Regions from separate parts of the Homo sapiens genome. Here region 1 is linked to region 2. The links come from fine-mapping of genetic effects on gene expression. A gene starts in region 2. The other region holds a variant in brackets. All regions are shown on one strand. Distances are from middle to middle. Region 1 overlaps PLSCR4 (phospholipid scramblase 4). Region 2 holds the start of PLSCR4 (phospholipid scramblase 4).

Region 1 (15,896 bases), 52 kb before region 2:
TCACCGTGGTCTCGATCTCCTGACCTCGTGATCCGCCCGCCTCGGCCTCCCAAAGTGCTGGGATTACAGGTGTGAGCCACCGTGCCCGGCTGACTTTAATAATTTAAAATTTATTAAATTAAAAATATATAAATTATATTTTTATATATTATAAAAATATATATAATATATATTATATATAAATTATATATATTATATATAAATATATATAATTAAAAATATATAAATTAAATATATATTAAATATATAAATTAAAAATAATTTAAAATTTATATTAGAAAGCAAGGGCCTTGAATAAACCTAATAATCAATAAAAATTACTTCAAAATCCCTGTGAAAAAAGTATTTGAAGATTCAAAGTCAAAAAATAAAACAGTGTTTTACTATTAACCATTGTATATTTATTTAAAAGCCATAAAGAATACGAAAAAGCATGAACGCACAAATTCCAGAGAATTTGTTTTTTAATCAATCCGATCAATTTTACACAACAAAATATCATTAAGAAACATAGAAATCATGTGAATTGTATTAAAACTATGACATATGACAATATTATATAAAGAAAATTTTAACTCTAAGAGACAAATATAATTTTTTAAAAAAGAAATTAAAAATATCACGTCTTATGCTAAATATATATAGATATATTTATTATGATGCAGCAGGTTTTGGAATACAGGGATTTAGGCAAGTTAAAAATAAAAAGTTTATATGCTTAAACTTTCTGAATATTGTTTGTCTGATTTCCTATTTAAATATCAGACATCATTATAGGAAATACATAGTCTACTTACGATTGCAATGGCACTTTCAAATATAAGGCAATTAATATTTTAGAAAGCAGCAACTTTTACTTTTTTTAAAAAAAAAAGCTAGTAGCAGCATGTAAAAATGAGCATTACGAGAAACTCAGAAAAACAAATTTACCCTGAAAAGATGAATATAATTAAAAAACAAAGCACCTTTCATTTCAAAAAGAACTGTAGGCTAAGACCCTCATCTCAGAATAACCCCATCTAAGAACACTCAGGCTTTCTTTATTTAATAAGCAGCAGCAGAAGAATACATCCCATTCTACATACTGACTGTGTTAAAAAAAAAAAATGCAGTCCATATGCAGGTAGAAAACTAAAGTGCAACAGAAGCAAGTTAATTAGAGTGTACTCACTTATACACTATGCTTTTAATTAGTTAACACAAAAATGTGTAATTGATAATTTATTATTGGTCCTACATATTATTTACTGGCATGCTGTAGACCATAGAGAAATAGAATGTTTACTGTGTTTTATTATTATTACTCTGTGTAGATACATATTTATCTATCATGTCAATAAAAAGAAGCAAAGCAGTATTAAGCAGCGGTGGAATTTGTCGCTTTCACTTTTTATAAAGTGCTACATAAAATGTCATATTTCCAAATTTAAAAACATAACTCCAGTTCTTACCATGAGAACAGCATGGTGATCACGAAGGATCTTCTTGAAAAAAACAAAAACAAAAACAAAAAACAATGATCTCTTCTGGGTATCACATCAAATGAGATACAAAGGTGTACTAGGCAATCTTAGAGATCTGGCAACTTATTTTATATATAAGGCATCTGTGACCAAGAGACGTTATGAATTAAATGTACAAATGTATTATGTATAAATGTATTAAATGCAAGCTTCATATAATGACACCAATGTCTCTAAGTTGCTCAGAGATCTTGACTGGCTGTGGCCCTGGCCAGCTCCTTTCCTGATAGTCTGATTCTGCCTTCATATATAGGCAGCTCCTGATCATCCATGCCAGTGAATGAGAAAACAAGCATGGAATATATAAACTTTAACATTAAAAAATGTTTTATTTTGTAATAAAATCAAATTTCCCATTGAAACCTTCAAAAACTTTGCAGAATGAGGTTTTGATATATGTGTACAAGTAGTACCTTCTTAGTGCAAGAAAACATCATTATTTCTGTCTGCCTGCCTTTTTGTTTTTAAAAATGAAGACTATCATTGAAACAAGTTTGTCTTCAGTATGAGGACATGTTGACGGAGAGGAAAGGTAGGAAAGGGTTAGGGATAGAAGCCAGGTTATTTTATGCCAACAAAGTCTGCTCTAAAAAGCCTTATTGTTTCACTACCTATTAATATGAGAACTCTGGATTCATTTTCCCTTATCTCATGTTTATAGTGTTTTAAGCTTACTTTGTATATGTTTACTGGGTTAATGAGTCACAGCTTTTCAGGATGAACTCCTATTCTACTAGAGAGATACTCAATTGAAACACACTTTTAGATTGTGTTCTTGCAAGCCCACTCTCAGCTGTCAAAGTTAACACCCAATAAAAATACTCTACAAAGCAAAGAAATACACTTGCAAATAACTGAGTGCTGACTGTAAGCCCAATCCAACTTTTCCATTTTTCAAAATTAACCATAGTTGATGGCTTGCTGTGTCTCTCTATCTTGAACGTTGTGGTGGAGATCTTTCAAAATACATGAAGTCCTGAAATTGGAAAAAGAATTATATGTAGATATATAGATAATTAGGTATAATGCATGCGGTATTATCCTTTGTAATTTATTAGGGGATTCCCCCATTCCAGTTAAAATACATAAATTTAGGGAAATATTTATGAAGAGCACCTACTGTGAAGAGCAGCAGTTACAAATTTGGAACTGTTAGTTTTCCATTTGAAGTGCCAATTAACTGAATCTCATCATTAAAAAGAGGAAAAACTTCATAATCTCAGGATTGGACAACCCCAAAGAGTACAGTGACAGGCAGAAAGGAAGGAGGAATGGGACATCCACTTTAGAGTTATTTCACTAAGAAATCATAGGCTAGGCATTTTTAAGTAGTGACAATGACAAATAACATGCAATGATGATAATTATACCCAATGGATACCTAATGTTATCTAAGTACTCCCCTGGTCATTTTACCATGATAGCTAACATTCATAACCCTGAAAATTATAAGTATTTTAATCTCCATTTTACAGATGAGGAAACTGAGGCTTTCAAGTGTAAACACTTTCTAAACCATGTAACTAGTAAGTGGCACAGAGATAAGTTGGATTGGTTTCAAGGCTTATTCTTTATACTACACTATACTGCTTCTCCATCAGAAAGAACAACTCTCTCAGGATAACTCAAAAATAGAAGGCTTACAATGAGGAAGCAAGCTCCAAAAATCATGGCTTTCATCTTCACATCCAGGTCTAGTGGGAAGTGAATGTCAAAATGGTCAGCATCTGCCATTGCTGATAACAAACCATTCCACTTCCGGATAATACTGCCGATGTTGGATATGCCATCAAGGGATTTGACCTGGAATGACAAGAATGTGCCTTTATGATGATTGAAACGCATTGAAGCATGTTTTAATGTTCTGCTTATGTTCAGATAACATAAATACAATGCAGAAAAAGACTATGTAATTATATAATTTGAAATGAGAAAATAATGGCCAAAAAGGGTTAACTGCCTTGCAACTGGTTAATAACTGAGCTAGGGTATTCTTAAAAGTCTCAGACTGCTGCTCTTTCTTCATCTTCAAATGAGTTATTAAGGGACCTTTTAAGAAGAGGTATGATTTGAACTGATTATGAAATTCTTCTCAACATAGTAAAGGGTGGGAATTGGGAGAGAGTCACTTCCAAACTAGGGAAACCTATGAGCAAAAACCGGGAAACAAGTACTGTTCACTTCACATCACTTAAGTTTTTGTGAGTGAAATTCACCTTGTCTTCTTAATATACGGCCAGATACCAACGAGCTTCAGTTTCTAAAAGGGGAAACCTGGCACTTGTCACAGGGAAAATATCCAAATACTAACTTCTAATGTCACTTGGCAATGGGAATGATCACACACACCCTGCCCTAGCAATCTGGCTTATCTACATTGCTCTTTTAATAAATAAGCAATGCTTAACGATACAGTAATAGAAAATAAGAACTAAGGAAAGTTTCTTGAGTATCATAGGAAACATATGAGCAAGCAGTTTTGAAGATGATGAATCTTGCCTAATTGCAAGGCATTCAAAAAATATTCTTTAAGAAGCCTAGGAAATATTTCTAGGAATTTCCTGTGTCAGACTCGTAGGGTAATGAACCAGCATTTTGTAGCCAGTGAGATAAAGGCAAAACAAAATAATTTTTCTTTTTATTGAAAAAAATGTTAAAACTATTATAAGTTTTATCCATATTGTTAGTGTTATCCGATTTCTTGAGGATGCTGACAGACTTGTATCCTGCAAATAAGTATTTCCACAGCCTAAGGAGTACTTGGTATGTTCTGTGACATGTTGGGCACTTGCATTACTTAGAGCCTATATTCCCAGCCTAGAAATCTAGGGAAAAAAATGGTTAATTACATATAGCCAACAATAGAATAGATGAATTAGGTCAAGCTATTTACTCTCAGAATATTTAATGTATTAAATGATTTCTTTTTATTTTTATCAAGTACTGAAGTCATAAAAAAAGCTTTCATTTTGGAAAACCTCAATCTACTCACAATAACTTTAAAATCTTTTGATGTCAACTGGTTAATTAACTCTTTCCTAACACTATGTTATTCATTCACATTAAAAAAAAATGTCTACAACCAGATCTTTCCATGGTCTGTTAATATGAGTAGGAAAAATATCAGAAACACTATTTTTACATAGTTTCACCTCAAAAACAGAATCTGAACCACAGCCATAGGTTGAGCATGGCCCACGAACTCTCATCACATTTTCTTTCTTCTCATTTTGGATGCTGTACACCGCCCTGCACAGGTTCCAATGTTCCGCAACAAAGCCAATGGTGACACCAGGAGGACACTGCACCTCCAGCTGCAAACAAAACAGTGACAGAAGTTAGGATGCTACATGCATACACATACACTTACACATACGCACATACACAATCTAGATGTGTCCTCACTCATTCAAAGACTAGGGAAATTATTGTTGGGAGTGACAGCCTTCCATCTCACCCAGGCCATTCTTCAGGTTGGATTTCAGTGAAAAGCTTTAACGGATGAGGTCATGTTTGCCTCTGGGATAGACAGCAGGCTTAATTAGGGCTTGTTACATAATGGCCAGTTGTCCAAGTTCAGTGTTGGCAAGCTGCATAAACAGCTGATATTTATAACTCTGAAAAATATAAGTATTTTAATCTCCATTTTACAGATGAGGAAACTGAGGCTTGCAAGTGTTAAACACTTTCTAAAACATGGAACTAGGAAGTGGCACAGAGATAAGTTGGCTTGGTTTCAAGGCTTACTGTTGATACTACACTACACTGCTTCTCCATCAGAAAGAACAATTTTCTCAGGATAAGTAAAAAATAAAAGGCTTACAATGAGGAAGCAATGGGCTTCTCCAAGTCAACCTCAGAACTTGGAGATGAGGGGAACCTACACACTTATGCTGCTTGCTGTGCTGTAAAACGGTCCTCTGTCTCCTTCCTAGGAGTCTCATTTCTTCTGACTCAGTCTATTAAACAGTTAAGCTGACTTTTTAGATTTGAAATTGGGTAAAATCAAATCTCAGACATGAAAATTATAACAGAAAACAAAAAAGAGGCATTTTGAAAATTATATATTGTGAAAACAACAAAATGTGTACATGGGTTTATAAAGCCATTTTTTAAAAGTTTTAAAATATTGTCCACTACCCTGTTTTTAGCTATTTATCTTCAACAATATTATTTTGTGAATAATTAAGATCTTCCTGTTTAATAATAATGAGTCATAAAGATTAAATTATTTGGTAAAAGCCCAAAGTGAAAATTTTATTGACTATTTCTCTGGTGTTACATGTACTTTCATAAGAATTTGGGGAAAGGATTACCCAGGACATGGAACAGGACTGCACAGCTTCATAAATTATTAAATTAAGGTATTATTGTTCATATGTATAAATTCACACCTATATACAAATATATAAATTTGAGAGTATCATAGAGCTCTCATATAAGTTTAAACCTATGAGATAAAAATAAAAATGTACAAAAATAAATTCCTTAAAAATTCATACCATGGTATACTACTCAGCCATAAAAGGGAATGAACTAGTGGTAACAGCTTGTACGAATCTCCAGTTAATTACTGTGGATGAAAAAGACCAATCCTGAAAAGTTACATACTATATGATTCTGCTAAAATAACACTCTCGAAATGACAAGATTATAAACATAGAGAACAGATTAGTGGTTCTGAAGGGCTAGGGACAAAGAGGAGGGAGGAATGTGGATATGGTAATAAAAGAGGACTTTGGTGATGATGGAACTGTTTGGGATTTGTATTGTGCTGATGGAAACAGGAATCTACACAAATGATAAAACTGCACAAACTAAATGTATACACACACACACAAATTAATACAAGTAAAACTGGAGAAATCTGAAGAAAAACCTAGGTAAAGTTATGAGACAAAAGTGTCATAAATTGGACTAGGCTTGTAATTTTTTTTAGGAGTAAGGGTCTTTCTCTGTCACCCAGGCTGGAGTGAAGTGGTGTAATCACAGGTCACTGCAGCCTCGATATCCTGGGCTCAAGTGATCCTCCTACCTTAGTCACCCAAGTAGCTGGGACCACAGACACACATCACCAGGCCTGGCTAATTTTTTTATTTTTTATTTTTGTAGAGATGGGGTTTTACCATGTTGCCCAGGCTGATCTCAAACTCCTGGCCTCAAGTGATCCTCCCACCTCAGCCTCTCAAAGTGTTGGAATTACAGGTGTAAACCATCCTGCCCAGCTGTAATTTTGATTTGCTTTCCTTTATTCTGGCTTCCTATAATTTCAGAAGGCTGTATCTATAGGCTTTGATTAAAAAAAAATCTAACTCATAAATATGAAGATAAATGCCTACTATATCCAAAAGGATCAAGGATAATAGGTATTCACTTCACATATAAGGCTGTTATCACAAAGACAATAATAACAAAGGAGTAAGATTTCTGAAAAGAGAAAATATTCATTGAGTACTATACTATTTGCTAGGAACTGTGCAGAAGAATTGACTTAATCCCTAAAATGATCATCCTATCCGATAGGTACTATTAATATTTCCATTTTACAGGTAAATAAGGCCTGGAGACGGTTGTAAAAAATTAATATTTAGTAAAGGATGTTATTTAACAGATCATTTAAGTATTTCAGTAATCCTATGATGTATTATACTACCCAGTTTATGTATAAGAACACTAAGGCTCAAACAGGTTAATTAAATTTTACAGATTTAAGTAGGTGACATATCTAGAATTCAGACTCTGTTTGGTTTCTCTCCAAAACCGCTTCTCTTTTCCCTACAGAAAATAACTTGCTTAGAAATGCAAGATAATGAGTAACCACACTGTAACTCAGCACATCTGTATTCTAGTTCCAGCCCTGTCCTTAGCCAAATGTAACACCTCAGCCATTTAGTAATTTTGAGCCACTCTTTATCTGTGGCAAGGTATGCGTTGTGATGGGTACTCTAAACATATTTAAGTCCCTTCCAATTCTAAAAGCATATGTTTATCTTTAGCATTGCTTTATCTAGTGATAGGTACGTACATTTAGATAAATGTGGTAGGTAAATTTCTAATTAAGTAGATGCAACTGATGGAATCATAATTATTGACTACACATATGTCAATTGTGCTTGACCCACTTATTTAAGCACTAAAAAGTAGTAACCAAAAAGAAAAAATCCTCTATGATTTTCCTTAGGCGAGACAATTTGGTTTCCTCCCTCCCCACTATCTTCTTCCATTCTGGCTGGCAGGGCCAGGGAATATCCTCCCTATGTAGTGGAAGGAGCACACTATGCCATGAAGAGTTAGATCAGAAGCAAGCTGTGGATCAGACTTCCATTCTCTGACCTCTTGTCTGGCAGAGGGGCAACAGAAGCAACAGCAGGTGCATCTGAAGGGTCTCTGCATTGTCATGATTTCTCGGCCCATACAATCAGTGACCCGGAGGACGAAGGGCCTTAGTGTCCGATAGGCATTCCTGGTAAAGTCATCTGTGTCTTCGGTTACAA[T/C]GTAAACCATCTGGTCTGAGTTGTTTTTAATATCATATCTATTATTAGTTTCAAAACATGTCATCACTAAAAAATAAAATGAGTAAGTCTATATTAGAAACATTTAAAATGGGCCTCAGAAAGTCCTTGTTTAGTATTTCTTAAGGGCTTAAAGCAACATAGCTTTTTTAAAGTTTCAGGTGAAATATGTAGAATTGATTAGAGTACCCCAAAAATCATATTATCTAAAAGTATTTAAGCAATTGTGAAAATTTAAAACATTTCTTTTAAGAAGTTCAGTGTAAACATTAAAAAAATTTTACATAAAAGAAAAGATTGAAACAACCCTTTTGTTTCAATTCCTGGAGTATCTGAATTCAGAAAACTTTAATTATAAAACCATTTAAAAAAATTATACATTTGACCATTAATTAATCAGTTCACGAAACATGCTTGGAGGAGTAGGGTCATTACTAATTACAAACAAGAGAACAAACCAAGAAAAGTCAAAGGCCCTATGTGGTGGCCAAATGAATGTGCACAGCTGGTTTAGTGAGGGTCAGTACTCTTGTAGGATGAACTGAGAACAGGCATCATTTTGACTGAGATCTTTTCTTCTTACTTCCAAAGCGAGGGCACTGCACTACGATTTGGCAGATTTGGATTCTATTTCCAGCTCTGCCACTGATTAGCTGACTGTGGTTTAAATGCTATTTCCTGATCTGGAGGTGATTAGCTGACTGTGGTGTCCCTGGCTAACTCATTTAGTCTCTTGGCTCCTTTTTTTACTCATCTTTGAAAGGTAAATGTGGAGTAGGAACAATGGGTAAAGTGTAGGGCTATTGACCAGATAAAATGTAAGCCCTTTTCAAATCTAAGAGCTTATGATTATATGATGTATAGAAGGATAAAATTATACAAAATAATTCACTTTATTACTTTCTTGAAGATAGGGTAATAGAGCAGTTTTTTTTTCTTTGAGCCACTAAAACATGATCAATATAAAGAAGGAACTAGATATTGGATAATGCAAATTTCCATCTGATTAAAATACTGCTGAGCACTACAAAAATTATACATACTTTCCAGAGGCTCAAAATGCTGAAGAACATGTATGTTGTCCAACTGTTGGGATAAAACAAAGCAATCAGAAGACAGAAATAACAGAACTAAAATACCACTGTAAAATAAACTGATGAAATAGATATTAAAATGCATCAATTGATACCAAAATATATTTTTGAAAGTCAATAGAATCAAAAAAATTTTACCAACTGAAATTAGCTTATCTGCATCTGATCGGATGGATATTAGCAGAGTTGTCCATATTAGAAAAACACTTTCTTTCAGTACCACTTTAAAAAAGTTGTCTGCTATATCAGAAAAACAAAACATCTACTTGCTGTAGTAATCACATCAGAAGAAGCTGTGCTTATAGATTGTTCCTAGATAAGTCCCTACTCACTGGTCTCTCTACATGTCATCCATAGCCTGTAGTTGTTTAGTTAAGTTCAGAACGATTAACACGGACCAGCCATAGAAAAGGGAAGTCTCTCAGTGGCTTAAGGAGAACAAACAAGCCAGGGTGAACCTCACATGGAGTGTCCCCATTTTATATTATTTTACAGGTACCTCCAGCAGAGGTTTATAAACTGACTTGCATTCACTTGATCTACAAAGGCCAGGGTCTTCCCCAAGTGCACACTTTAATAAGGGAAGGGTCTATTACACTAGGAAGCATGTGAACAGGATTAGGGGAAGAGAAAGGAAACATTGTTAGATGGCAACCCATGAAAAGGACGGCTGGGTATATACCATTAGAGAAATTTCTATCTTAGGAATCATTCTAAAGATGAGCAGTTTGATGGGCACATTATCTGTTACATGTGAGAACATTCTAGCAGAAGAAAAGAAACCTTCTTGAGGACACACTGATTATATTTGTATAATTTTACATCATTTAGACCATTAGACCATTCCTAATCCCTGAGCCCAGAACACTGCCTGAAGTGCCATATTTCACCAAACATTGGTTAAGTACATTAATTAATGAAGAATATATGAATGCAGTAATACATGAAATTAAAATAATGTACCTAAACACGAATGTTTTATGGTGTGATTAATTACAGGAGGGTACAAAGGGCACAATCTATGCTTAATTAAAACCTTTTTCTTACATAAAAACACAATGACATAAGGAGACATAAATATGCCTCATAAAATACCAAAAGTGACTACTAAAATGGTTTATAGTCCATTTTAGAAAAGTAGGGTATTAAAATCTAGAAGTGAAAAGTAAAAATATAAACTACAGGCATACTCTGAAGATACTACAAGTTTGGTTCCAGACCAAGGCAATAAAGCAATTATTGTAAGAAAGTGAGTGACATGAATGTTTTATTTTCTTATTGAATCTAAAATTATGTTTACACTATAATGTAGTCTACAGTGTGTGTAAGAGTATTAATCTAAAAGAAGTATATATCTTAATTTTAAAAAACTTTATTGCTAAAAACTGCTAACAATCATCTGAGACTTCAGCTAGTCACAATCCTCTTGCTGGTAGAGGGTCTTGTCTCTATGTTAATGATTGCTAAATGGTCAGGGTGGTGATTGCTGAAGCCCAGGTTGGCGGCAGCAATTTCTTAACAAAAGATAATGAAGTTTGCCATATCAATTGACTGACTCTTCTCTGCATGAAAGATTTCCTTGTAGCACATGATGTTCTTTTTAGTACTTTACCACAGTAGAACTTCCTTCAAAATTGGAGTCAATCCACCTAAAAACTGCCACTGCTTTATCAATTATATTTGTGTAGTATTCTAAAACCTTTGTCATTTCAACAATGTTCACAGAATTCTCACCAGGAGTAAATTTCATCTCAAGGAAGCACTTTCTTTGCTTATACATAAGAAGCAAGTGCTCATCTGTTAAAGTTGTATCATGAGTTACAGTAATTCAGTCACATCTGCAGGTTCCACTTCAAATTCTAGTTCTCTTGCTGTTTCCATCATATCTGAAATTACTTCCTCCACTGAAATCTTGAACCCTTCAAAATCATCATAAAAGTGGCAATCAGCTTCTCCCAAACACCTGTTAATGCTGATATTTTGACCTCTTCCCATGAATCATGAATGTCCTTATTGGCATCTAGAATGGTGAATCCTTTCCACATGGTTTTCAATTTATTTTGCCCAGATCTGTCTGAGAAATGACACCATCTATGGCAACTATAGCCTAACGAAATTCATTTTTTTAACAATAAGACTTGTAAATTGAAATTATACTTTGACCCATGGGCTGCAGAATGGATGTTGTGTTAGCAGGCATTAAAACAACATTAATCTCCTTATACGTCTCCATCAGAGCTCTTGGGTGACCAGATGTGTTGTCAGTGAGTAGTAATGTTTTGCAAGAGACCCTAACAGGGAAGTCAGTCTGTCCTTTGAAGTTTTCACGTCAGGCGTTGACTTCTACTTTTTAGCTATGAAAGTCCTAGAAGGCATCTTCTTCCAACAGAAGGCTGTTGCATCTATATTCAAAATCTGTTGTTTAGCAGAGTCACCTTCATCAATGATCTTGTTATAGTTAGGATCTTCTGAAAAACTTACTGCAGCTTCTACATCAGGACTTGCTGCTTCACCTTGCACTTCTATGTTACAAAAGTGCCTTTTTTCCCCCCTTAAGCCTTGTGAGCCAACCTCTGCCAGCTTCAAACTTTTTTTTTCTGTAGCTTCCTCACCTTTCTCAGCCTACATAGAATTTAGGAGAGATAGGGCTTTGCTCTGAATTATGCTTTGGCTTAAGGAAATGTTGTGACTGGTTTGATCTTCTTTCTAGACCACTAAAACTTTCTCCATATCAGCAATTAGGCTCTTTTACTTTTCACCATTCATATGTTCATTGGAGTAATATCACTTTCAATTTCCTTCAAGAACTTTTCCTTTGCATTCACAGCTTGGCTAACTGGTGCTAGAAGACTAGCTTTTGGCCTATCTCAACTTTCAACATGCCTTCCTCATTAAGCTAAATCATTTCCAGCTTTCTTATTTACAGTGAGAGATGTGCAATTGTTTCTTTCACTTGAACACTCAGAGGCCATCACAGGATTATTAACTGGCCTAATTTCAATATTATTGTGTCCCTTCCTGGAACTCAATAATATGTGTCTGTTAAGGGGTAGTTCTTTGACAAATTGGTAAAGTCACTGGTAAAGCCAAGACTCTGAAAATAATATAATCGTGCTAATTTGGATGTTTTAGGATTCTTGGGAACCTTGATAAAGATTCATGTAATCTTCATGTGAGATCTCAAAAAGACTAGGGTAGATAGAGGAAAAAGATTGGCTCTATGTCTTGCATTCACACATAAGAAGGTATTTAAGCTAATAACAGCCACATAGCTTTCATCCATTGGGACGGCCCTTTATGTCAAAAATATTAGGCACATTGTGACCCTTATCTCATTAAAAATTCTCCTAACAATCTGGTAAGGTAGGTATTGATAATACTATTTTATAGATGATAAAATTCAAGCAGCAAGAGGTTAGAAATTTTATCAAAGTTTTTGAGTTACTAGAGAGTAGGACAGAATTAAAAAACCAGGTTTGCCTGGGTCCAAACCTGTGTTTTGTTTATTTTTTCACTTATTTCTTTAACTCTAAATATTCCTAAAAGGGAAAACTCATAAAATACGTTAAATTAACCTCTGTCAGAATCATAAAAGAAATTAAGAAACAAGTTTTTAATATTTAAATAAACAAAGCTATACAATTTGAAAAGAGAATTGACTGTAGAAGATGTTAGATTCCCAAGAACAACTTCTGTATTTATCACCAAGTATAGAAATGAGACTTTCTAAACTTGATAAGCTACAAACATTTTATTATCTTCTGAAATAATGTAGATGTTTACTCTAGCACTTCACCTGAATGAGTTTTGCATTTTGTCAAAATTTTGTCCAAATAATAATTTAGGATAAATTTTGGCTTTTGTAAAATCCAAATTTTCCTGATCCAACTGTATTGACTTCTATACACCAATGTTATAATATTATACAAATAGTTTTCAGCACACAAGATTATCAGGGTCCCTGTCAATATACAGAATTGAAAAGAGAAATGACAGAACTCGAGGAAATACTTGGCTGTTGACCTGGGGAGGTAAGTATTAAATTGGGAAGTTTCTTCTTTATAATGTATTTCAGCACTTCCTTTTTCTATAAACAACAACAAAAAAGATTCAGAAGGTTCTATGGAATCTCCAATAAAGTAGTCTCCCTCTTATCCTCAGGGGATACTTTCCAAGCCCTCAGTGGATACCTGAAACCACAGATTGTACCAAATCCTGTATATACTATGCACAAATTTTTCTTTTCTTCTTTACAATTTCATGGACATATTAATTTTACTATAGATCTTAGTAACCTTAGCATAGGAATTTTTTTATTATTAAGTAAAAAACCTTCACCTTTACATGGAAAGGAAGACCTTATGGCCTCTCTTTGGTCTTTCCTTGACATATCCAAATTCCCAGCATTACTACTCTTGTGCTTTGGAGACATAATTAAGTAAAATAAGTTACTTCAATGCAAGCACTGTGATACTGTAAGTCAATCTGATAACCAAGATGTGACTCTGGGTCTGTATACTATGGATAACATCTACAGCGTGGATACACTGGACAAAGGAATGATATATGTGCCAGGCAGAACACAGCAGGACTGTGCAAGATTTCATCATGCTACTCAGAATAAATTTAAAATTTATGAATGGTTTATTTCTAGAATTTTCCATTTAATATTTTTGGAACCTGGTTGACCATTGGTAACTGAAACCGCAGGAATCAACGCCACAAATAAAAGGCGTCTACTCTGCCAGCTTTATCTTATTTTCATTAAGCAGGTTTTTTAGTTTCAGACATGGGTTTTTAAACAAAACTATTTGTGCACAAACTTCCCATATTACCCCAGTTTTTGATCTGCATGTCCTGGTGGCAGCAGAATATCTACATAGATGTTAATTAGGGAGTTATTGTGTTGTATGAAGGGGGTCTCTGGAACTTGGCCTGAAGCAATATTCTTTGTAGGGTCCATTATTTTTATTTATATTGTTTGTTTTTGGGGGTGACAAGAGTAGCTAATGAAAATGATGGGTGGTGGTAAAAAGCAATGGGCTAAGGCACTCAGTAATTTACCCACTGTATTGTGTTTTGTTCTCTTTTGTGCTTTTTTTGATGTTAACTGTTTACTTCTAAGCAAATAACACAACTATCCTCTATGATAGTTTTTCTATTTCCATTTGTACAATTCTTTCAAGAAAACATCTTGAATGCCTTGAAGTTCAACATAAATCCTTATGAAAAACATACTCATCCCACTATAAACATCCTTGTACTTGCTGTTTCCCCTTCATATTTCTGAAACTGGTATCACTGTTCTTATAGTTTCACAAATGGCATCTGTCATCACTGACCCATCTCCTTTATTCACTCTGGTCTGCTTTTTTTCTCTCTTTGTTGGATCCCTATGGTCACATTTCATAAGAAAATAATTTGTATTTTCATGGAGTACCTGAACTAAGTATTCCAGACCAGGAGGGCAGTTTGCCATAGGAGTTGGCCCTGGCATCCATGTTATTGGAACAGACTGATTTGGCATAGGATATTTGCCAGGCTGATACCGGACAGGATGGATACCACCAACTGGCTGGTACAAAGGGAAGGTACTGGGTTGCTGTGGACTGTAGTATCCCATAGGCAAGCCTCCTGGGTAGCCAGTAGGTGGAGGGACAGCTGTTCCAGGGGGTCCTGTGTTCAAAAGAAATCAAAGTGTTATATATTATTAACACTAAAGTTAGCATAACTTTTTACATGCGATGAAATAGATCACACGACATCCACTTAAATATAACAACTTGTTCCATTTTTGATTCACACTTTATGCAGATCATGGTTGCATATGACCCAACGATGTATTAGGGAGACTTATTTACATATTAATTCATTTAATCCTCTTAAAGCTTATAAGATAATTATTCCCATTTCAATGGTACAAAAATAAGTTTTGAAACATTAGAAGAAACATGTTAGCTTCTTAATAAATTAGGTTCCTCCTTGGAGATAATAAACTTACCTAATGAGGTTGTAGTGGGATTAATTACTAACGTATTAATTACTAACGTATAATTACTAACATATAATTACTCCTGCAAATTTTTGTTATTATGTCTATTGTTATTGTTTGTGGTTACATAAATAATGTCTACTTCATTTCAAAGGAGTGCTTTTAATGAATATTTTAGGTTGCCTTGACCCAATCGCTTGTACATATCTTCATCATCGAGTTCTCAGACTGGTCCCCAATCCTGACCTCTTTTAGATTCAATTTCTTAAAGTTATTTTCTTAGTAGTTATGCTGCTATAACAAAATAAGCACAAACTGAGTGGCTTAAACAACAAGCATTTCTTTCTTATAGTTCTGGAGGCTGGGAAGTTCAAAGATAAATGTTAGCATGGTCAAACCTGGTGAGAGCCTTTCCTGGTTTGCAGATGTTCACCTTCTTGCTATATGCTCACAGAGTGAAGGGGGAGAGAGAGAGACAGAAAGACAGAATCCCTCTCATGTCTCCTCTTATAGGGTATGAGTGCCATCATGAGGGCTCCACTCTTTTGATTTAATTTTCTCTGAAAGGCCCCACTTCCAAGTAACATCACATTGGGAAATGGGACTTCAATATGTGAATTTGGGAGGGATATAAACATTCAGCCCACAGCACTTATCCCTCTATCATTTCTCCCCATTCCACCTTCAATCAGAGATCTGATGAATTATCTTTGTCATTATAAGTCCATCAAGGAACCTAGATTTCCTTAAATGGATACAAGATTTTATCATGCTT
Region 2 (15,896 bases):
CTTCTAAGACAAAAACCATTGTTAATGAGACAGCGGACTCCAGAGGAAACATTCTGAAAAGTCATCCATCAGAATGCTTCCTCATTTGTAGAGAAAACACTTGCTGGTCACTTGGCTACTTCTGATATTTCTTCTCACTTAAAATAATAAAATTCAGTGAATGATAACCTTGTAATCAAAATACAGCATTGTAGGTAAAGAATGAAAGCCTGCCATTGCTTATTGGTGGCTTTCCGACACAGGCATTCTGGAGATACTACTGTGCTGCTTAGTTACCCTGAACGCATTCTCTTTTCACTGTACTAATGATACATCCTATTTTTTACTGTTAAGCACTTATTTGTGAGTAATGTAAGAAAATGATTACTTATCAGTAGCATAATGAATTTAGAGTCAGGAATGATGGTGACGTCAAATAACCACAGATTGTCCACATGGGTGATTGAGATACTGATACCTTTGCTTTCTGATGGTTCAACGTACGTAAACGTTTCATACACAACATTATCAAAAATATTGTATAAAATTATCTTCAGGCTATATGTTTAAAACATAATGGAACATGAATTTCATGTTTACTTGGGTCCCATTCTCAAGATACCTCATTATGTACATGCATGCCTTGTTTTACTGTGCTTTGCTATACTGTGATTCACAGATACTCCATTTTTTTAAACAAATTGAGGGTTTGTGGCATCCTTGTATCAAGGAGTCTATCAGTGCCATTTTGCAGAACAGCAACTTCTCAGTTTGTCTCTTTGTCAAATTTTGGTAATTCTCACAATATTTCAGACTTTTTCATAACAATCTGTTATGGTGATCTATGATCAGTGATCTTTGATGTTACTATTATAATTGTTTTGGGACCCCATGAACCATGCCTATATAAGATGGTGAACTTAGTAAGTGTTGTTGTGACTGCTCCACAGAGCAACTATTCTCCCATCTCTCCCCTTATTCTAGGACCTCCCTATTCCCTGAGACAAAACAATATTGAAATTAGGCCAATTAATAAGCCTACAAATGCCTCTAAATATTCAAGTGAAAAGAAGGTTCGTGCATCTCTCACTTTAAGTCAAAAAGCTGGAAAAGATTAAGCTTAATGAGGAAGGCATGCTGAAAGCAAAGACAGGCCAAAAGCTAGGCCTAGATTCCTCTGATGAATCTAGGCAACGTAAATTGAAAACTTTCTAAAAAGGATTCACCATTTTAGATACCACTAAGAACTTTTGTTATTCATGGGAGGAAGTCAAAATATAAATATTAACAGGAGCTTGGAAGAAGTTGATTCCAACCCTCCTGGATGATTTTGCGTGGTTCAAGACTTCATTGGATGAAGTACCTGCAGATGTGAGAGAATAGCAAGAGAACTAAGAGTTAGAAGTGAAGCATGAAGATGTTACCGAATTGTTGCAGTCTCATGATAAAGCTTAAAAGGATCATTGCTTCTATGGATAAGGAAAGAAAATGGAAGCCATTTCCCAGATGATTTTAATATATCCCCTCCTGGCCCCAACACACACCCCCTCAGTTACAGATCTATGAAATTTTACCCCATTCAGATAAAAACCTATCTGCTGTAGGAATCATAATACATTCAATCAAATGTTCAGTTTACCAATATAAGACATATCTATTTTTTCTCAAATCTCATTTGTAAACCCAAGTAAATTTCCTCTATACCAAATTCAAAATAAATCCAAAATATGCCATATAATATTTTTAAGTGATACATTCTCATTTTCACAGAAGGAATGCAAAACGAAAATAGTAGTGATTGTAAACTACATAAATATCAAGCACAATTGTTAAGTAAACACATTATCATGAAACATTATGATAAAATAATTTTCCTTTAAAAATATAGTAACAGTTTTGTAAAAATCATTAAATGTTTACATTCAAATGTTAAACATATAATCTGGATAATTATAATGATAGCAATGTTTTTAAAAAATATGGAAACTGGAGGAAACATGCTAAGATATAAACATTTCCTCTTTAAATTTTCTACAATAAATGTATAATAAATTATATAAACTGAGTTTTTAAAATAATTTTTAAAACCTGACAATGTACTCTCTTGTAGTGAATCTGTAACTAAAAAGACCTGCATGTTCATCAAAGAGGAAATATTATGCACACCTTTCCAAGTACAATCCTCTTTATAGACTTTAAGCCAAATTTCTTGGCTCCTATGGTGGACTGTGTTAATTACTTTTATGGGTTTCTTGGCTATAGGGAACTGGATAGTTCAGTGGGCTCAATATGAGTGGATTAAAGTCCAATGACTGAAGGATTCAGTCATTTCTGTAGACATCTTGTAAACTTAGTAAGTTTCTGTCACATGGGCTGAAATTAGAGAAACGAATTCCAGGCTTGCACAAAAGATAAACCTAGGTCCATGTTGATAAAATATGCTGCAGCAGGAATGTCCCATAGATACACAGTATCTTCATTATAATTACATGTTAACATATATGTATTTAATTGTATCTTTGCATAAAATCAATTCTAGAAGAAACTTAGGGAGTGATTAATGTTCAACAAATTACAAGGGCAAAACCTAAGATTTTTATTGTGTTGTTTTTATAACCTATATCAATATATTTATTATTTTATTAACATCATGACTCCTTCAAAAGAAAAAGTGTATGGTAGAATATTTCATTCTTTTTAGCAAGTGTGAAGGATCTTGGAGGTTAGCTATTTGGCTTTAATATAAAATAAAAGATAAGATTAAATGAAAGCAAATTGATAGCCACAGTCCATACATAACCTTTATTAAATATATTAATTTAGTTCAAATTGTTTAAAGAGAATATCAGGTGTCTCCTTTTTAGCTTTCAAAAGGGAAATGTTTTTGTTATTTAGAGTAGAAAAATATCAGAACAATATTCTCATGATGTTTATATAAGACATTAAGGAAACATTACCATGCCAACTATGATTACCAAGAACGCCTCATTGTGTCATTTTACAGCTAGTCTTTTAGTATTTAAAATTGTAGTAAAACAAGATGTCATGTTGCATACAGTTAAGTCACTTTGATAAGAAACTTTACATTTATGAAAACAGACTTTTAAAAAACAGATGTTATGTGCAAACAAACACAAATATAATTCAAGGAGTCGGCAGTGCATACATTTACACAATACATTTATACAAAAAAATCCCACCTACTCCAATTCCCATTTCCCATTTGAAAAGGCAACCACAGACATTAGATTTTTTTTCCTCCAATAGATTTTCTAAGCATATATAAACTAATACACACAGTTTTTATAAAATGGCAATCATCTATATACTTTTCTGTGTCTTTTTCTTTTCATTTATTAAAATGTCTTGATGTTAATTACATTTCAGTCCATATAACCTCATTCTTTTTAATGGCTGCAACATAATGTATTTAACTGGCTGCCTAATGACAACAAGTTAAATCGTTTCCAAATTTAGGCTATTACCAAAAATGCTGAAAAAAATATTTTCTTCCTGTGGATCTGTGCATTAAATTATTGGAAGCAGAACTGATGGATCAAAGTTTTGTACATTTTTAAAGATACTATCAAACTGCACTCTAAAGAATTTGAATCAATTTAGACCCCAGACAAAAAGTTACATTCCTAATACAGTATTTTATCAACATTTTTGTAGTAGTCAATCTGATATATAAAAAAAAAAAATTGGTTTTATTTTCCATATATCTCATAATGAGGAGGCTGAGCCACTTTTATTATTTGTTTGAAAGCAATTTGCAACTCTATTTCTGTGAACTGCCTGTTTGTCATTTGTTCATTTTTGTTAGCTTTTCATTTGTCTTCTTTATATGAAAGGTATTAAAATTTTATATTAAAATTATCTTTTCAAAACTTATCATTTGTCTTCACTGCATTTTTGTCATGCAGTTTTATTTTTGAGGCAGGGTCTCTTTCTGTTGCCCATGCTGGAGTGCAGTGGCATGATAATGGCTCACTGCAGCCTTGACCTCCCAGGCTCAATCAATTGTCCTACCTCAGCCTCCTGAGCAGCTGGCACTACAGGTGGGTGCCACCATGCCTGGCTAATTTTTAAATTTTTTTAGAGGTGGGGTATCGCCATGTTTCCCAGGCTGCTCTCAAACTCCTGGGCTAAAACAATCTGCCCACCCCTGCCTCTCAAAGTACTGTGATAACGGGCGTGAGCTACCGCCACCCAGCCTTACCATGCAATTAAAAACAATTTTTTTCCAACTTTAGATGTTTTTCTTTTTAAGGACTAGCATATCTATCTCTTTCATCCTGAAGAATGAGTACTATAAAAATGAATTTTAGCACAATGCTGGTGAACATATGAGTATGAACATTGCTGTATTTTTTGTTTATAAAAGTTAACTGGTTGTGAAATCCCTCAAGCAAAATTCTTCACTGCTGTTCTTGCAATAAACATCATAAACATCAATATTAAGGAAGGGGATTTTAAAGGAAGCAGCTGAAAGAGGACACTTATAAAAGAAAAAAAATGAGACAATATGAAAGGTTTTGTGAAATATATTTCTTCTGTAGTAAATGACAGCTAATATATTCAAGAAGGCAATGTTCTGTATAAATTACTATCACTATCAATTTTTCCTTATACACACGCATACATTATAGAAATGTGTAAAACAACATCACTACTCATAATAATATAATTCGGCTGTGTGTAAAACATCACTACTCACAATATAATTCAGCCTATATTCCAAATTATTTACAAAAATATAATTACTACACTACACACACACAGACACACACACACACACACAGTGTTTCAACTTGTTGTTTCATTTTGTGTTTTAACTTTATGTTTTGGACATATTTCCAAGTTAGAACATTTAGAGCTACAATGTTTTAAACTGTATATTATTCCACCTTTGAATATACCATACATTATGTAACCAATTCCCAATCAATGGCTACAGAGCTGTATCCATGTTTTCTACATTGTAAACAATCCTACTTTAAACATCTTTGACAGAGATTTTTATTTGTACACTTGGGAGCATGTTTTGCTGGATAAATTCCAGTTAAGTAAATGAACATTTGTAAATCTGAACAGCTTTAACCCTAAAACAGCTTCACCAATTCACATTTCCACTAAAAGTTTGTAAAATTATATTTTCCTCACTGCATTTTCAACAACACCTAAAGTTATCAGACTTTCAAAATTTGTAAAATTAATGCAAAAATTGATGTCTTACTTCATATATGTTTTGGATAATTAGTGTGGCTAACAGTATTCACTCTGCTTATTATTTGCATTTCTTTTGCTTTGAGTTGACTCTTTTTATCCTTAACTGGGTCATTGATTTTGAAGGTCATTAATAAGATTTCTAGGTATATTAGCAAAATTATCTTTTTTTTTCTATTAACAATGTCCGCAGTTTGTATCTTTTTTGGGGGATGCAAATGTTAATAAAAATCATGTCCCTAAATGGGTCTAGGTTTTTGTATTATGCTTAGAAATGCTTTTCCCACATGCAATGTGCACAAATATCTATTCAGGCTTTCTTTTTCCCTTTTTAGGCTGCATATGTTTAGATTTAAACTAGTAAGCCATCTAGACTACATTTGTCTATTAACAGTGAGGAAAAGTTCCAGTTTTATTATTAGGTTTCCCAAACAAATTCCTGCTTGTCCAAGTACATTCAATTAAATGTTATTTCTTCTTCCCACCCAGTGATTTAAAATGTATGCTTATCAAATGCCAGCTTTCCTTTTATTCTTCCATGTCTCTTCAGTTTCATTTACACATCTGGTAGTAGGTCTACTGCACTGTCTTTTAATCACCACAGTTTTGTAACACCTTTTATTATATGAAGAAGTCTCCACTATATATATGTGTGTATGTATAATATTAAATGTTAAAATCATATATAATATATAAAATAAGACATAATTATATATTTTGTATTTTATTATTTGTAATATATTATACATAACGTTAATATGTTTGTTCTTCCACATGAGCTAAACAGTACAGTTAAAAACAGTAACAAAAATATTCAGTTAGGATTCTACTTATACGTTGTTTTAGAGAAATGATATCTTTACCTAGAAGAATGTTATGTATTTTATTGGATTCTCATACATACCTTTTTATATCTTCTTAAAAATAATTTCTCAATTGTGTGTTATTTCATGCCAAACTGAATTTTACTTTATTTTACTGTATTATCTAGTTTATGTATAAACATCAACTGACTTCTATAAATTAAGTATGATGCAATTGGAAACTTTGATAAATTCACTTATGCTTCCCATCAAATTTCAGTGTTTCCTATGGACATTAAGGTATACACTCACATCATGCATAAAGTGATAATATGTTCCCCTACCTGTTGTCACTCGCCCATAGAATTCACAACCATGTCACAGAGTGTAATGATTAGCATTCTTGTCTTTTTCAAATTTAATGGAAATGCTGCTAGTATTTCACAGCTATCCATGAGAGCAGATAGACAGATGGAGGTTGTGTTCTATTACTATTACAGGAGAATGCAATTTAAATTAGGCAATCTATTCCCCTTTAAGCAGTATCAAGTTTGGTGCATTATATCTTCACAAGTACTTATTTTGGTGGCTCCATTCTAAATGCAGTATAAAATTAAAAACTAAATTGTAGATCCTAAGAGAAGATAAGGCCACAAAATAAAATCCTAAGTCTTTAAATATGAACGTTTTTAAAAACAAATCAAGCACAGCCCCAAATCGCCCCAGTTTGCCAGAATTGGAAATAAGAGAGAGGGATTCTCTCCTGTCACCGCCTCCACTCGCTGAGCAATTAAAAAGTTACTATAAATAGCGTTTTTACCTGCGAGTGGCCTGGCCTGAGTCCGTGAGAGCCGCGCCGTAGAAACGCCAGAGACCCATGAGAAACCCAATCAAGCGAGACCTGTCACGCAGAGCGAAACGAAAGGGCCGCCCCCGTGAAGTGCAGCCAGGACCCCCATCCCTGGGCAGGAAACTGCTCGCTCCCAAACCCTCTGCGTCTGCAGTGCAGACGCGCGCCCGACACCACGGAACTTCTGCAACCACCTGAGGATGCGACGCGAGCGCAGTGTCCGGGAACTGCTAGCGCAGGACGCCGCGCAACCTCCGCGCCTGCCCGCAGGCACCGCGGCCTCGGGCCTCCCCTGACGACGCCCTCGGCCCCGCAGCCCGGGCGCCCGCGCCACCCTGTCCTGCTCTGCGCCCGCCTGTCCAGCCCCACTCACCGCCTGCCCCGCAGAATGCTGGGCACCGGGGACGCCAGACGCCGGGTCTAGTTGTACTGGCAGAGGAAAGGGAAAGGAAAGGAGGCAGGGAAGGGAGACGGAGAGGATTTTTCAAGTTATAAACAAAGTAAGCGCGCGGAAGGGAGGGCTAGGCGCGGGTTCTGGGGGCGGGTCCGGCACGCCTGGACCCTCCTTCCCCGCGCGCGGCTTCCCCGTCTCGGACCCCGCCCCGCGCTGGGAGAGCCGCCAGCCCGGGGGAGCGTCTTCCTGGAAGAGGTGGGGCACCCTGAAGTCCGCTGAAACCTAAAAGCCGAGGGGGAGGAAGAAATGAAGAAAATAAGTTGTCACTACTCTAATAAGAGGTGAAAGAAAAGATAAAAGCCAGCCCACGGTCACTTCCAATCAGAGGGGCAGGTTGCAGGGCCTGGGAAAGGGAGCTTTGTTCATAGATTACTGCGCCTAGAGAGAAAATGAAGAAACCCCTCTTTCTCAAGAGCCTTTTTTATTTTTTTATTTTTATTTTTGATACGGAGTCTCACTCTGTCGCCCAGGCTGGAGTGCAGTGGCGCGATCTCGGCTCACTGCAAGCTCCGCCTCCCAGGTTCAGGCCATTCTCCTGCCTCAGCCTCCCTAGCAGCTGGGACTACAGGCGCCCGCCACCACGCCCGGCTAATTTTTTGTATTTTTTACTAGAGACGGGGTTTCACCGTGTTAGCCAGGATGGTTTCGATCTCCTGACCTCGTGATCCGCCCGCCTCGGCCTCCAAAAGTGCTGGGATTACAGGCGTGAGCCACTGCACCCGGCCTCAAGAGCCTTTTTGATTTGCATTTGCGCCCACCCCCAGGTCCTTGGCTTGGTGATTTAGCCTTGGCAATGCCGTGCTGGCTGGAAACACTTGGGCATAGGGCCCAGAAATTCTGTTTTCTTTTCCACAGAATTGGGGGAGGCCAATTTGATCTTGGAGGGAAGGCGGGAGAGACGCCAATAAAGGGGAAAGGGAGCAGGTTGCCCATGTTTTCTGACATTGGGAGAAAAATGCCATTTGCTTATTACTGTTAGGCACAAATATTTCTTTCAGACCAATGGGATTCAGTTCTGTGGTGGTGCTTGGAGAGAAGCACAATACACTGACAGGAAGTGGGAGAACTGAAGGTCCTCTGACCTTATAAAGAATCAGAACTGGACAGAAGTAAGCTTGATTAAGCTCTGAGGAGTACTTGGCAGAACCCCATTGTGGGAGAAGGTTGGAAAGGGGAAGGGATGTGGGAGTGGAGTTCTAGAATTTTATATTTTTCTTTGTATGTGTGTTATTTGTTAATATTCATGTGAGAATAGATTAAAAAATTCATACTGTTCTTCTCAGTAATAATTGCACAGAACATTTCTCAGATGCAGACATAGTGTTTTACTGAAAGCATAAAACAAAGAAACTGGTGGTGAAACTAAATTATAATAGCATATGTTACTGTTGGGAGCAAGCCCCCCAAAATCTGGCCATAAACTGGCCCCAAGACTGGCCATAAACAAAATCTCTGCAGCACTGTAACATGTTCATAATGGCCCTAATGCCCAAGCTGGAAGGTTGTGGGTTTACGGGAGTGAGGGTGAGGAACACCTGGCCCGCTCAGGGCGAAAACCGCTTAAAGGCATTGTTAAGCCACAAACAATGAGCATGAGCGGTCTGTGTCTTAAGGGCGTGTTCCTGCTGCAGTTAATCCGGCCCATCCCTTCGTTTCCCTTAAGGGATACTTTTAGTTAATTTAACATCTATAGAAACAATGCTAATGACTGGTTTGCTGTTAATACGTGGGTAAATCTCTGTTCGGGGGTGTCAGCTCTGAAGGCTATGACACCCCTGATTTCCCACTTGACACCTCTATATTTCTGTGTGTGTGTCTTTAATTCCTCTAGCGCCGCTGGGTTAGGGTCTCCCCGACTGAGCTGGTCTCGGCATGTTACCTTTGTTTAAAATTTATGAAAGAGGCCAAGTAATTGAGCTTATGAATGTAAACATCCACAGTGGCCACGTGAAGATACCAAAAATTTCAAGAGCAAAACATGTCTTGTGAAACATATTGCTTTGAGGGATTAAAATAAAATCAAGTATGTCATATACCCCAAATCACAACTTTCGAGGGGAAGAAGAAGAACTCAATTTCCTGTTTTTCTGAAATTTCCTGATCTGATGACTTTCCAACCTGGACATTTCGAGGGATGACAAATTAACTACTTTTTATACTAATCCCATTTTAGTTGCTCTGTTGCTCCAAGTGTATTTCTTCGTGTTATTTCCTTTTCACTGGTTGTTCTTAGGTTACCACAGTCTACTTAGAGTTAATAATGTACCACTTCACATAAAGTTAAGAAATTTATAATTACTTTACAGTTCCTCAATTGTATGTGCAAATGCTATCAGATTTTACATACCCATTAATTATAGACTTTACACAACAAAATGTTTTAAGTTTTGCTTAACTAGTGCATTGTCTTTTACAGAAATTAAAAGAAGAAAATAGCTTTTCTATATTTCCACATATACACAATTTCCTGTGCTCCTCGTTTTTTTTCTTATAGATCTTAATTTCACCTATTATCACTTACCTTCAGGCTAGAGACTTTCCTATAGTAGTTCTTGTTATTTTTGAGACAGTGTCTCACTCTGGTTGCCTAGGCTGGAGTACAGTGGCACAACCTCAGCCCACTGCGGCCTCGACCTCCTGGGCTCAGGTGATTCTTCCACCTCAGCGTCCCAAGTAGCTGAGATTACAGGCACATGCCACCATGCCCAGCTAATTTTTTTTTTTTTTTTTGGAGGGGGGAGACAAGATTTGGCTTTGTTACATGGACTGGTCTAAAACTCCTGGATTCAAGCAGTCTGCCTGCCTTGACCTACCAAAGTGCTGGGATACAGGTGTGAGCCACTATACCTAGTCCCTTTAGTATTTCTTGTAGTGCAGAACAGCTACAGACAAAATCTTTTTAGATTTTTAAATCTAAAAATGTTTTTATTTTGTATGAATTTTGTAATGATATTTTTACTGGTTATAGAATTCTGGGTGTACAGATTTTTTTTATTTTATTCCCCAACAATTTTGACCTCCATTTTTATCTGACAGAATGCATATTGTTGGTTTTAAGAATAACTTTTTATCATTGGTTTTTCTGCAGTTAGTCTATGATGTATGCTTCTTTCTGTATTCTACTGTGGTTTTCTGAGTTTCACAGATACATAAGTAGATATTATTCACAAAATTTGAAAAACTTGCAGTCATTATTTCTTTACTGCACCATACCCATTTCTCTCTCTTCTCCTTCTGGAAATTCAGTTCAATTAATTGTATGTTGGACCATATGATACTGACTCACAGCTCACCAAGACTTTATTTACATTTTTTTGATTTTTTTCTCTTTAAGTTAAATAATTTCTATGGATCCGTCTCAAAAATATGCTGACCCTTATTTCAATCTACTGTTAAGTCCATTACAGTATTAACACTTTTCAGTGCTAGTATTTCTATTTGGTTCATTTGTGCAGCTTCCATGTCTTTTGATGAGATTTCACATCTGTTCATTCACTAAGACCATCATTTTCTTAACTTTTTAACTTATAATAACTGTTTGATAAGGTTTGGATCTGTGTCCCTCCCAAATTTCATGTTGAAATGTAATCCCCAGTGTTAAAGGTGGCCTGTTGGGAGGTGTTTGGATTATAAGGGAGAATCTCCTGTGAATGGCTTAGTGCCATTGCCTTAGTGATGAGTGTGTTCTTGCTCTGGTAGTTCCTGTGAGATCTGGTTATTTAAAAGAGTGTGTCCTCTCCCCTCTCTGTCTCACTCCAGCTCTTGCCATTAATACACCTGCTCCCCGTTTGCTTTCTGCCGTGATTGTAAGCTTCTTGATGCCTCACTAGAGGCAGATGGTATCACTGTGCTTCCTGTGCAGCCTGCAGAACCATTTAAACCTGTACAGCCTGCAGAGCCAATTAAACCTCTTTTCTTTATAAATTACCCAGTCTCAAGTGCTTCCTGTACAGCCTGCAGAACCAATTAAACCTCTTTTCTTTATAAATTACTCAGTCTCAAGTATTCCTTTATAGCAATGCAAGAACACCCTAACATACTGTTTTACTACTTTATATCAACATGTATTTCACCTTGTCATGTATTTCTATGGGCTGGTTTTTTTTTTTTTTTTTTTTTTGGATGATGAGTCATGATTTTCTTTTTCTTACAATGGATATTACTTTTTTATTATGCACAGGGCATTGCAAATAATATATCTGAGTTATGTCTTCTTCCTCTAAGGAGAAAGCATTCTCTGGCAGGCATTTGAGGGCTGATCACCTTTAACATCCGGAGCCATTGGTTTATACTTTAAGGCATGACTATTGAATACCTGAAGATTTTACTAGGCTCCTCTATCCTTTGTGTTACTCAGATTCCAAACAGTATTTCATTTGCTGTATACAGCAATTGAAATCTCTGTCCAGTCCTTTCAGCTGCTGCCTTCTCCTTTCTGCTGGCATCATTGGAGCGTCCCCAATAGACACACAGTTCCACGGTCAGTCAAGGATTTGAGGACTTTTAATTGGCAGGTATTAATATTATTGTCTCTGTGTCTCCCTACTTTCTGGGATTACTCTTCATTTATAAGCACCCTGGTAGCCTGAAATCTCTACACCGATATCACAACTCAGTAATTCTGATGCATCCTACTTGAGTTCTAGCTACGTTACATCTGAGAACTGGGAGTACCCACAGGGAAAGTGTCTATAAGCGTGGGTCTCACTCAGTCATTGTAATTCCCTTCTTCACTAGTTGAATTAAGACATTTTTGCATCACCACAAAAAAATACCTGAGGCTGGGTAATTTAAAAGAATAGTGATTTAGTTGGCTCGCAGTTCTGCAGCTTATACAGGAAGCACCTAAATCTGGTCTGCTTCTGGGGAGGACTCAGGGAGTTCTTACTCATGGAAGAAGGCAAAGGAGGAGTAGGCATGTCACATGGGAAAAGGGAAAGGTCCCAGACTCTTTTAAAGTCTTTAAGTTCTCACATGAATTAATTGAGCAAAAAGTCAGTTATCAGTAAGGGGCTGGTCTAAACCATTCATCAGGGACCCATCCTCATCATGTAATCACCTCCCACCAGGCCCCACCTCTAATATTGGGAATCACATTTCAGCAGGAGATTTTGAGGGGACAAATATCCAAACCATATCATTCTACTCCTTGCCCCTCAAAACTTATGTCCTTTTCAAATTTTAAAATACAATATTGCCTTCACAATAGTTCCCCAAAGTTATAACTTTTTCCAGTATTACTCAAAAGTCCCAAATTCCAAGTCACAAGTCCAAAGTTTCATATGGAGTTGTTTTTTTTTTCCACCTATGACAGTGAGATTAAAATCAAGTTATTTACCTACAAGATACTGTGGTGGTACAGGCATTGGGTAAACATTCCCATTCCAAAAGGGAGAAATTGGCCAAACGAAAGGGGCAATAGGCCCCACACAAGTCTGCATCCCAACAGAGCAGTCATTGAATCTCAAAGCTCCAAAATCTCCTTTGACTCCATGTCCCACATCCAGGGCACACTGATGCAAGTAGTGGGCTCCCAACACCTTGGGCAGCTCCACCCCTGTGGCATTCCAGGATGTAGCCCCCATGGCTACTCTCATAGGTTGGAGTTGGTTGCCTGTTTTGGTTCCAGGATGAGGTTGCAAGCTGTCAGTGGCTCTACCATTCTGGGGTCTGAAGGCTGGCAGCCCCCTCCCCACAGCTCCATTAGGTAGTGCCCTCGTGGGGACTCTGTGTTGGGGCTCCAACCCCACATTTCCCACAGCTCCATTAGGTAGTGCCCTCGTGGGGCCTCTGTGTTGGGGCTCCAACCCCACATTTCCCCTCTGTGCTGTCCTAGTAGAGATTCTCTGTGAGGACTCTGCCCCTGTAGCAGGCTCCTGCCCGGGCAGCCAAGCTTTCTTATACATCCTCTGAAATCGAGTGGAAAGCTGCCAAGTCTTCTTCAAACTTGCATACCATGGGCCTGCATACTTAACACCACATGGATGCTGCCAAGACTTATGGCTTATCCCCTCCAAAGCAATGGCTCAAGCTATGCCAGAGGCTCTTTGAACTCTAGCAGCTGGAGAGGCCAGGATTTGGGGAACAATGTCCAGAGGTTGCACAGGGCAGCAGGGCCATGAGCCTGCTCCACTAAACAATTTTTTCTGCCTGGGCCTCTGAACCTTTGATGGGAGGGTCTACCATAGAGATTTCTCAAATGCCTGCTAGATCTTTTCCTCATTGTCTTGGATATTAGCACTTGGTTCCCTTTTAGTCATGCTAATCTCTCTAACAAGTTGCTGCTCTGCAACCTGCATATATTTCTCTCTTGAAAATGCGTTTCCCTTTTTAGCCACATGGCCAGGTTCTGAATTTTCCAAATGTTTAAACTTTGCTTCCCTTTTATATTTAAGTTCCAACTTTAAATCACTTCTTTGCTCCAGTACCTGATGGTAAACTGTTAGAAACAGCCAGACCACATCTTGAATGCTTTGCTGCTTAGAAATTTCTTCCACCAGATAGCCTCCTAGGTCATTACTCTTGAGTTCAAACTTCCACAGAACCCTAAGTCATGGACACACTGCAGCTAAGTTCTTTGCGAGGGCGTAACGGGGGCTACCTTCACTCCTGTTCCCAATAAATTCCTTATTTCCATCTGAGACCTCCTCAGTCTGGACTTCACTGTCCATATTTTAATCAGCATTTTGATCACAGCCATTTCACCATTTAAGAAGTTCCAAACTTCCCCTCATCTTTCTGTCTTGTTCTGAACCCTCTAAACTCTTCCAGCCTCTGCCCATTACCTAGTTCCAAAGCCATTTCCACATTTTCAGGTATCTTTATAGCAATACTGCACTCCTGGGACCAATAGTCTGTATCAACATGATGTTTTTGTGTTGCTCCAAAGACATATCTGAAGCTGGCTGAATTATAAAGAAAAGAGATTTAATTGGCTCATAGTTCTGCAGGCTGTACAGGAAACATGGTGCCTGCATCTTCTTGGCTGCTGGTGAGGCCTCCAGAGCCTTTTCTCATGGCAAAAGGCAAAGCGGGGGCAGACACATCACATGGTGAATGAGGGAACAAGAGAGAGAAGGGGGAAGTCCCGTACTCTTTTAAACAACCAGATCTCATGTGAAATAACTGAGTAAGTACACACTTATCAAGGAGATGGTGCTAAACCGTTCATGAGGAGGTGGGACCTACCCTCGACCCACCCTCATGATCCAATCATCACCGACTAAGCCCTACTTTCAACATTGGGAATCGCATTTCAACATGAGATTTGGAGAGGACAGATATCCAGACAATATTACCAGTCAGATGCCTTACAATTTCTGTCAGCTTTTGATTGTTCTCCAGTGCCTTCAAATAGTTTTTATTTTATATTTTCCCAGAGTTTATTATTGTTATCTAGGGAAAGATTATTGCAATCCAAGCTAACTTATCATCATTGGAGCTCCAACTCTCACAAATTCATAACTTTTGAAAGCAATTTATTTTCAGACATGCCAAACTGTTAGAAATTTTTTTTATTAAACTAAATGTACATGTATCCTTTATCCCAAAAGAGAATATTTTTCTTACTTATTTAATATAATAACGCTGTAAATTGTTGTAAATAGCTATTAACTTTTCCTTAAGTATTTTCTTCCTAAGACCAAACAGCCTTATTTCCTTTTGCTGTCTCTATTTGTCATTATTGCAGATCCCTTACATTAAGACTACCTTCCTTAGGTTTATTCATTGCCTTCTAATATTTGATCTGATGTTTAGATAATACAATAATATATCAATAGGTCTCTATTAATGAGGCCTAATTGCATTAGTTTTATTGGCATATTATTTACTCCTAGTATTATAAGTAATACTATATTTGTGGTTCATTAAACCCTAACATTATTACCTTAGAGTCAGTCTTTTCATTGTGTACTAGAAAGAATATTATCATTGTTAATATCTGATAGATGAGCTTTTATTTCCTGAGCTCAATTCTTTAGTCCAATAAGTTCTATATGCAAAGGATAAGAGATATGGAAACCAAATAATTTTAATAAAAAAGTAGGCAAACGTGTTAAGAAATGAGCCCACGGCTGATGTTGTGGGTGGAGGTAGAGGAGTATAGTGAGAGAAAGGCTCTTTCTAGCACCTGAAGTAATGGCTTGGTGGTTTTACCAGTAAACAATATAAAGCAAATTGTCCACTGTTTTCAATACTACCCTCATGATTTTTTGATTTAAAGTGCTTCATTGGTTTCACAATTTTTATACCTTTTCACATAGGCCAAGATGATAAATAAATTTGCCCTCTGACCAATCAGTGTGAGAAAAATATTTGAAAAATGGGAAACATTTCTATTTGTGTGCAGCATTAGATAGGAACGGGACACCAGCAACAATGTGTTTCAGGATATAGTTTCTCATTATCAGATGCTCTTCACAGATGGATTTGACATAAATGTTATGGGAGTTAAGAACACAATCAGATGAGCCATGTTTAGGAGGCTCTCATCTAACCAGCTTTTTAAAACTGCAGATATGGTTATTGTGTGGACAGCTGATTTTTGATTTTAGAAATAGAAACTCACACTGTGCCTATA

The links.
Region 1: its variant is fine-mapped to the expression of PLSCR4 in lung (TOPMed, PIP 0.97).

The regions. Positions count from the first base shown.
Region 1 is chr3:146,191,957-146,207,852 of GRCh38, forward strand. PLSCR4 (phospholipid scramblase 4) reads right to left here. Exons shown (of 9, transcript NM_020353.3): 4 at 14,570-14,805; 5 at 9,079-9,121; 6 at 7,857-8,083; 7 at 4,676-4,837; 8 at 3,168-3,326; 9 at 379-2,499. The coding sequence ends at 2,455. Among named protein-coding and RNA genes, the nearest start is that of PLOD2, 39 kb to the left of the region's middle. The variant T/C (reference allele first, on the strand shown) is at 8,018.
Region 2 is chr3:146,243,726-146,259,621 of GRCh38, forward strand. It overlaps PLSCR4 (phospholipid scramblase 4), which reads right to left and starts at 7,380. Exons shown (of 9, transcript NM_020353.3): 1 at 7,235-7,380. RefSeq lists enhancers at 12,495-13,484, 13,485-14,473.